Regions from separate parts of the Homo sapiens genome. Here region 2 is linked to region 1. Evidence: fine-mapped expression QTL. A gene starts in region 1. The other region holds a variant in brackets. All regions are shown on one strand. Distances are between the middles of the regions.

Region 1 (4,385 bases):
GAAGAGACGAAACACAAGTAATGATGACTGAGTCAGCCTGGCTCCCTTGCCACTGGAATATTGTCAGAATTGGCCGGCTCGCCCTTGCCTCTGTAAAAAGCCTTTGCCAAGGGTGTGATTTTTCCTGAAGATCATTCTTTCCACATGACCAAATGTTGTAGTGTGTCATCAGTCCAGACTGTTTCTTTCTGCCAGAATCTATGCTTGGGGCACAAAACTCGGGGTCATTCAAAAGTGATTTCCCCTAATCAAGAGGCAAGTGATATTTCCTGGAAGTTTCACCTCCATTCAGGGCTCATCAGCTTTCTCTGCTTTTCGTTCCATCACTGCTTCTTTGATTCCTGAAAAAGTGCTTTTCTTGGAGCCCAATGACCAATGACCAATGAAGAAAAAAACTTGGAGTAAAAGGCAGCCCCAGCGTCCATCTCTGGCCCAGGCCCAAGGCCTCTGAAATGGGGCCACAGTACTGGGCAGCTTGAGGTCTCACCCTGTGGTCACAGTCTCAGAGCTCTGCAAACCCCGAAAACCTGTGAGAAAAATCAACCCAAGAGGTGTTAAAAGGACTCACCCATCCGGGCAGCATTTCCCGAGCTCTGCCTGAGTTTAACAGTTGTAAGGCTCCGGCGTTCAGCAGCCCTCCTGCAAGATACTATAGGTAATGAGCAGGAATTCCACCACCCTCCCTCCTAAGAGCTGTGTCCACACAAAGCCAAATAGGTAACTGACCAGAGAGCTTACTACGCACAGGCAGTCCACATAATTCAAACCCCAACCCCAGTTTTTTCACATATATATGTAAGTTGTTTTGCAAGAAGGCAAAACCCTCACATTATCTCCTCACTGTGAAGTTTGCGCCCACGTCAAGCAGATGCAAACAATTTCATAAAACGGCAACCCAGTTTTATGCAGAACCATTGGAAATCATAAATTGGAGTAAATTGAGGCTCACTAGAGTCTTGAAAGTAATTAGCTGCTTTGTGAGGAAGACTAAGAATTCAACAAACTTAAGCATCTACAAACATCATCTGCAGACATCATCTTAAACATTTTAATCTGCATCCTGTCCCTAGTCCTTTGCATTCCTTAAATAACTATTTTACTTCTGTTGGGTCCTTCAGGGCTGCATACAGGAGATATGGAAGCCTGTCTTTTGCAAGTAGCTGGACCGAACTGCCCAAAACTAAGAGAAACTTAATTCTGAGATTTAAAACAAAAAAACCATTTTAGCTGAGCATCTTTATTGGACTCAAAAACAATTTCATAAACAAGTAAATGAGAACTTCACATTTTCTGAACCTTGAAGGTTTTTTCCTCAATTTCATTCTTTTAAAAATACCTTTTAAATTAATTCAGCAAGGTTCTTAAACACAGCAAATTGACAAATATCAACTGAGTGTCTGTTCTGTGCAAATCACTCTGTAACAGCTTGCTGGCTTTACATTCTCGAGGGCTCCCTGCCTCCAGAGCACCCTGGTTTTCGGCCCTGCACGCATCTTTTCTCTGCACCTTGGCTGGTTGGAGCAGTTTCAGTAGACAGGTCCTGATTGACCCAACATTTCAGAGAACATGCACAGAGCATAGTCCTCCTTCTAAATCAGGGATTCTCAAATTTCAGTGAGCAGAACTCCCCTGGGTGCTTGTTTACACGTAGATTCCTGGGTCCCACCCCAGAGATCAGTTTCGTCTGTCCAAATTGGAGCCTGAAAATCTGTATTATTAACCTAGGCCCCAGTGGTTCTGATGCTGGAGGTCCAGAGTTGTGCAGTTGTAAGGTGACAGCCCAGACCACAGAGATACTTATCTGAACTCTTTCCCCAGTCCTGTCCAGGAGCCGTTGGGGAGGACATCTCTCCTCTGGGGACCCCATCAAAATGGCGACATCATGATCTCCCTGTCAGTTTCCCTAAAGTACAGTCACAGGCGACAACACTGGCCCAGCAGCTATTGTGCCAAGTCATCCGTGTGATGGTGCGGGGCCTCGGGAGAGAGGACCACCAGCCCCTTCCCCTGTCCCTCACCCGCTGTCTCCAGGGGCCCTTTCAGGGGTGAAACCCAGTCCCATCTCCCTCGCAGCTGCTAGTCTGTCCTCTTCCAAGAGGCCATCGGCGCCCGCCACGGTTCACCCTAAACAGGGGTTTCTGCTCCCCAGGTCCGCCTCGGAACCCCTGCAACCCTCATTGAGAACGCCAGTGTTTAACAGCGAGTCGTTTCCATAGCAACCGACAGGGTGTCACAGACACAGGATTATGACTTCACGGCGTGGGGATTCCGGAGAAGGGGGTGGGGCGGCGCCCCCCCTCGCTTCCCCGCCCCCCGGCAAGCCCCGCTCCTCACCCAAGCCGCGGGGGAGGAGCCCTCTTCTTTCCCGCCCGGCCCCGGCCCCCAGCAGGACCCCTCCCGCTCAGCTGCTACAGTGGGCACGAAGAGGGGCATGGCTTTCGGCCGCGCTCCCCAGCCTCGCGGGGGGCAGACGACGGCGGGCGGGGCGCGCAGAGTACACTCGACCCCCGGCGGCCGGGAGCGATCACGCGCACGCCGCGCGGGCCCGGGGGCGGGGGCGGGGCGCGCGGTCCCCGCCAGGGCCCAAGTCCCACCTTCGGGGGCGGTGCCTGGCCCGGGGAGTGTCAGGAAGAGGAAGAGCGCGGCCGGCGGCGCTGCGCTGAGAGCAGGGGCCCGGCCAAGGCGAGTGCCGCGCGGGCCACCATGGCCACGGACGAGCTGGCCACCAAGCTGAGCCGGCGGCTGCAGATGGAGGGCGAGGGCGGCGGCGAGACCCCGGAGCAGCCCGGGCTGAACGGGGCAGCGGCGGCGGCGGCGGGGGCACCCGACGAGGCGGCCGAGGCGCTGGGCAGCGCGGACTGCGAGCTGAGCGCCAAGCTGCTGCGGCGCGCAGACCTCAACCAGGGCATCGGCGAGCCCCAGTCGCCCAGCCGCCGCGTCTTCAACCCCTACACCGAGTTCAAGGAGTTCTCCAGGAAGCAGATCAAGGACATGGAGAAGATGTTCAAGCAGTAAGTGCCCGCGCGACCCGGCCCCCCGCCCGCCCCGCGACCCGGTCTCGGGCCCCGAACCCCCCGATCCCCGGATCCCGCTCCGCCCCGGGAGCCTGCCGTCAGCCAAGCTTCCCCGAACCCAGACGCACCGGGGTTGGGGACCCGGCGGCCCCTTCCAGATCGAGACCCGGCATCTCACCGCGCACGTTAGTCTGGGGGACCCCCGGCCCCTGGCACGCGGCGGAGACTCGTATTTGTGCTGCCTCCGGTACACCATAGACGCGTCCACAGAGTGGGGGACCCCAGGCTTCCTTCCAGATAATCGCCAGGCCCCGCGAGCCCCACCCCCACCACCACACGTGTGGGTCCCGGGCCCTCCGCGCTGTTAGTGGGGCTTCTCCACCACCCCACACCGCACACACCGAGGCTGAGGACCCAGCGGCCTTCCTTCCCCGATCCCAGCTACTCGCGTTCCCCACCCCCACCCCAACACACGCTGGCCAAAGATACCCACCCCAGTGCCCCTCGACACCACATGCCAACCACATTCCCTCCCTTAAGGTCTTTTCGTTTCCTCTGCGATCTCAGGTCTCCCTCAAGGTGGGTTCTGGGCAGGGATCCCCCCAACTTCCTCTCCAGTTACTTAGCGTCTACCAGCAAACTGGGGGCAAAGACTTGCCCTTTCCATCCCCACCCACTCATTAGCCAGGACCCAAATCCTTCACTCACAAGTGGTCTCCTTAGGAAGGGACCCCTCGGCCCCTGTTGCCCCTCTGGTGTAAACCTCACTCCAGTCGTCCCTGTGGGCCGAGTCCCCTCCGGGTTTGGAAGGCCTCCCTCCCGCTCCTGCCCGCCCCACCCCCGTGCACCCAGCAGCTTGCAGTCACCGCTCCCCTGCTTCTGTCGCAAGGCCCCCCATCTCTCCTCCCCACTCCGTATATCCCCTTCCCTCCCCACAGGGACCCCCCATGTCCCACACCCACCCTGGTCAAAAGGGGCCCCTTCCTATGTGACTTGCCCTGTTACCCCCACCCCTACCCTTTATTCCATCAGATCCACACTGTGTGCCCTCACCAGGGTGGATGGGCACCCCCAGGCGTGTGGGCTCATCCCCCTGTCCCCCCACAAAAACAATCTTAATGTCTCTGTGGAGGGGCTAGGGAGAGAGGGCCCAGCTCCCTCCGGCCCATCCCTGGGTCCCACTCTGTTGGGTCTAAGATGCACAGCCACTCTCTCCCAGCCATGTGTGTGCCCAGGGGATGGGGAAGGTGCCAGTGCCCCTCCCTTTGGTAGCTTTCCCCACCTCCTGTTCCCTGTCCCCCTGCCCCTGGCTCCTGGAGAGGGAACAGCCTCGTTCCACGATCTGGGTGCTGGTCTGGAGTGGTTCTGGAA
Region 2 (4,385 bases), 55 kb after region 1:
CTGTGTTCATCTCATTCCCTCCATAAGAACTATAGAGTTTGTGTTATTATAACTTTTATTTTATATTGTAGTTTATAGTTAGTATAGTAACAATTATTATATGATCATAGTTCTTAGGTTATATACTTTAGGCCCTATTATAACTAACTGATTGTCCCAGGGGAGGAAAGATCCCCAAGTCCCATCTAGTGGCTCACGCAGCAGCCAGTTACTTGGGTCTATCCCCAGCATTATCCAAAGCCAGGCCTCTGGAGGTGACCCTCTCCCTGGGCCCCCTTTCTCCCAGCTCCTCCAGGACCTACCGCGTGGGGCTGGGCCGGCACAACCTCTACGTTGCGGAGTCCGGCTCGCTGGCAGTCAGTGTCTCTAAGATTGTGGTGCACAAGGACTGGAACTCCAACCAAATCTCCAAAGGGTTCGTTTCTGTCTGGGTGCACTTGGGGGTGAGGTTGTCAGGGAACAGATGGGGGTCTCACAGAGGCAAGGGTCTCAACCACACCACACCCCCTCTGCTTCTTCTACAGGGAGGGGGAAGGAGCTCTGGCCTCTTAGATGTGGAACCAGCTCCAAAGATGTCTGGGGTGGGGATGTGACCTGGGGAGGGTGAAGCAAAGACTGCCAGAGCGACCTGGGTTTGCTGCCAGTTACACCTGCAGGGCCCCTGTCCGCTGAGCATGTATCTACTTCATGCCAGGTCCTGGGGACACAGGGACAGTGCTGTCAACCCTGTGACTGTCCCTGGAGTAGGACACAATCTCTCCTGCCTTCCCCCTTTCAACAAGGCCCTCTGCATTTTCAAACATGCCCTGGGGCCCTGCCAGTCAGAGCAACCTGGGGTAACAGGGTACAGGGAAGATGACAAGGTCTCCAAGCCCTCCAAAGCCCACAGGGCAGGAAAAGTCAACCCGGTCCTCATGCTTCGCCTCCACACTCACCCAGGAACGACATTGCCCTGCTCAAACTGGCTAACCCCGTCTCCCTCACCGACAAGATCCAGCTGGCCTGCCTCCCTCCTGCCGGCACCATTCTACCCAACAACTACCCCTGCTACGTCACGGGCTGGGGAAGGCTGCAGAGTAAGTGGGAGCCAGGAGCCCCCAGGCCTGGGAGGGAAGGGAGGTGATTCACGTCACCCCTGTCTGGCCGGGGCCTCTCACCTGTCATCCCAGGGTGTGTGGCTGCCTTGGAGAGACGGGATGGCATAGGCTGACGCCTGCCTGGGATCAAATGTCAGCTCTCCCACTTAATGACTGTGACACCTTGGACACATTACTAGGTCTCTCCATGCAGCACTTTTTTCATCTGTAAAATGCAAATATTTGGCTGGGCGCAGTGGCTCATACCTGTAATCCCAGCACTTTGGGAGGCCCATCCCGCGGATCACTTGAGGTCAGGAGACCAGCCTGACCAACACGGAGAAACTCTGTCTCTACTAAAAATATTAAAAAAAAAAAAAATAGCAGGATGTGGCAGTGTGCACCTGTAGTCCCAGCTACTCAGGAGGCTGAGGCACGAGAATCACTTGAACCTGGGAGATGGAGGTTGCAGTGAGCCAAGATTTCGCTACTGCACTCCAGCCTGGGGGACAGAGCGAGACTCCGCCTCAAAAACAAAAGGCATAATAATAGCACCTACATCACAGAGTTGTCACGAGGATTAAAGGAGATAATCCATAGGAAGCCCAGAATGGGGTAGGTGCTGTGTTAGTTGTTGTCACTGTCCCTATGATGGAGAGAAAGTTACAGAGACCATGTGACATCTTCTGTGTGGCCCAAGGCTAGAGTTCAGAACAGCATTTTCCTCTGTGACCTGAGACCCCTGGAGCCCTCATCAGACCCTCCATGCCCCATAGCAAAAGCTGTCCCCTGTGCCATTAGGTCTTGCTGCTCAGAACCTGAATGAGGGCGGGTCTCCTTTGACATAGACTCCAAGGGTCAGAGATCCAATGACAGTAGCCACCAAGAGGAACAGAGTTCCCGCCCTTCCCTTGTGAAATCACCAGAGGTTTGGAAGATTCTAGGAAGGGATGAGT[A/G]ATAATGACCTTATGACCATAATGAGATTATGAGTGTTAATCACATTATGACATTTTTTCCTAATGACATAAACCCATAAGTATAATGACATGTTTTTCCAGGGGTACATCCACATACGTACCCTCAAATAATTCCCATTGCCCTCTTGACTGGCTTATCTGTAAACACAAGGACACATCAAATCCTGCGGTGAGCGGTGGTGGAAGAGGCATTTCATGCTTATTAAGATACAAGCACAACCTCCTGTTTGTTTCCCCAGACAACCCTGGGGCAGGCGCATTTCATCTGAGACAGTGAGAGTGGGGAGGCCTCCAAATGCTTGGCTTTTCGGCCCAGCTCTGTCAGTCACGGTGAAACCTTGGGCAAGCCACTTCCGAACCTCAGTTTCCTCATCTGTAAAATGGAAACACTGTTGGTGAAGACTAAAAGAGGTGAAAGGTGAAAATGCATCATACATTGCAAAATGTTATGCAAGTGTTAATTAATTACTTATTAGTGGTCTTAAGCCAGACACTTAACTTCCCTTTTTTTTTTTTTTTTTTTTTTTTTTGAGACAGAATCTTACTCTGTTACCCTGGCTGGAATGCAGTGGTGCAATCTCGGCTCACTGCAACCTCTGCCTCCCGAGCTCAAGCGATTCTCCTGCCTCAGCCTCCCAAGTAGCTGGCATTATAGGCGAGTGCCACCATGCCCGGGTAATTTTTGTATTTTAGTAGAGGTGGGGTTTCACCATGTTGGCCAGGCTGGTCTCAAACTCTTGACCTCAAGTGATCTGCCCACCTTGGCCTCCCTAAGCGCTGGGATTAGAGGGTGAGCACCGCGCCCGACCGACACTTAACTTCCCTAGGCTTCAATCGGAAGTGAAGAATTGTGTTAATCTCATCCTTGCCACTCATAGCTGTGGTAACAGTAATGGAGGTGATGGTGGCTGTGTCATTGGGGGCCATTATGAAAGCCCTCCCTTCACCACACCAGCATATTTTTCCCAAGGAGGGGGCTCTAACAGCCAGGAGGCTCACTTTCTTATTTCAGATAAGTGACAGAAAGCCATGGAGCTAGCTCAGCAAAAAAAGGGAAATTGTTATAAGGATTTAAAAGTTTTATCCCAAGGGCAGAGATACAGCCAGGCATCAGGAACAAGCTAGAATCAGGGGCTGGAAACCTGTAAGAAACACAGGAAACCCTCCCTCAGAATTTCTGTTCTTTGTGGGTCTACTTCATTCTCCACATAAAACAAAATGTCAGTCATTGCCAACAGCTTCCCAGAATTATGTCCTCTGAAACCGGAATCTCATAGACCCCATCTCAGAATCCCAGGGGAGGGAGCTCATTGGCTTAGCTTGAGTCAGGTGTTCACTGCTGAACCAATCAACCGTGAGGACACAGTATAGACAAACGTGGCTGTTCGCATGTTGCAATGGATGGAAGACAGGAACAGGGGAAACCTAAGACGGGTCCATCACTTCCTTTTTCTCAGGAGTCCCTGCATCCCTAATGGCTTCTCTCTGATCTCATTCAGCCAACGGGGCTGTTCCTGATGTCCTGCAGCAGGGCCGGTTGCTGGTTGTGGACTATGCCACCTGCTCCAGCTCTGCCTGGTGGGGCAGCAGCGTGAAAACCAGTATGATCTGTGCTGGGGGTGATGGCGTGATCTCCAGCTGCAACGTGAGTACCAAAATCAGGGGCTCCGCTCCATGACAAAATGTGGCTGGGGATAAGGCTATAGAGGTCCATCCCTCCATAGGTCCATCCTCCCACCTCCTGGCAGAATTACCCCGAAACATGTTCCAGATATATCTTTGGCCAGGCACGGTGGCTCACACCTGTAATCCCAGCACTTTGAGAGGCCAGGCGGGCAGACCACTTGAGGTCAGCAGTTCAAGACCAGCCTGGCCAACATGGTGAAACCTTGTGTCTACTAAAACTAAAAAAATTAGCCGGGCATGGTGGCAGGCGCCTGTACTCACAGCTACTCGGGAGGCTGAGGCAGGAGAATCACTTGAACCCATGAGGCGGAGGTTGCAGTGAGCTGAGATCACACCGCTGCAATCCAGCCTGGGTGACAGAGCGAAACTCAAAAAAAAAAACAAAAAAACTTGATCTTGGTTCTTTTTTGTTCTTGTTTTGAGATGTTTTGAGATTCTCCTTGTAGTATCCACCCATCTCACTGCTGGGAAGTCCTTCCCTGGGTCTCATCAAGGTCTCTCGTGACTGTCACTATGTATCCTTTCCTCTATGCTGGAAGGGAACCAAAGGAAAGTATTCCCTGGCTTAGGGCCTTTCTACGATGACTTCTGGTTTTTCTGTTGAATTAGTCTCATCAATGGCGCAGCGTGTCCCCTCCAGGTAGCT

What was found. PIP is the estimated chance that this variant, and not a neighbour inherited with it, causes the effect. A credible set is the group of variants that fine-mapping cannot tell apart.
Region 2: its variant is the best candidate, but not a certain one, in a credible set for the expression of EFHD2 in lung (TOPMed, PIP 0.82).

Annotation. Positions count from the first base shown.
Region 1 is chr1:15,407,269-15,411,653 of GRCh38, forward strand. It overlaps EFHD2 (EF-hand domain family member D2), which reads left to right and starts at 2,620. Exons shown (of 4, transcript NM_024329.6): 1 at 2,620-3,011. The coding sequence starts at 2,704. EFHD2-AS1 (EFHD2 antisense RNA 1) reads right to left here. Exons shown (of 4, transcript NR_183705.1): 2 at 569-639. RefSeq lists a silencer at 2,268-2,867 and an enhancer at 2,380-3,242.
Region 2 is chr1:15,462,447-15,466,831 of GRCh38, forward strand. CELA2A (chymotrypsin like elastase 2A) reads left to right here. Exons shown (of 8, transcript NM_033440.3): 4 at 287-415; 5 at 940-1,076; 6 at 3,553-3,698. LOC105376767 (a long non-coding RNA gene) reads right to left here. Exons shown (of 3, transcript XR_002958256.2): 2 at 1,636-2,426; 3 at 1,069-1,302. Among named protein-coding and RNA genes, the nearest start is that of CELA2A, 7.9 kb to the left of the region's middle. The variant A/G (reference allele first, on the strand shown) is at 2,033.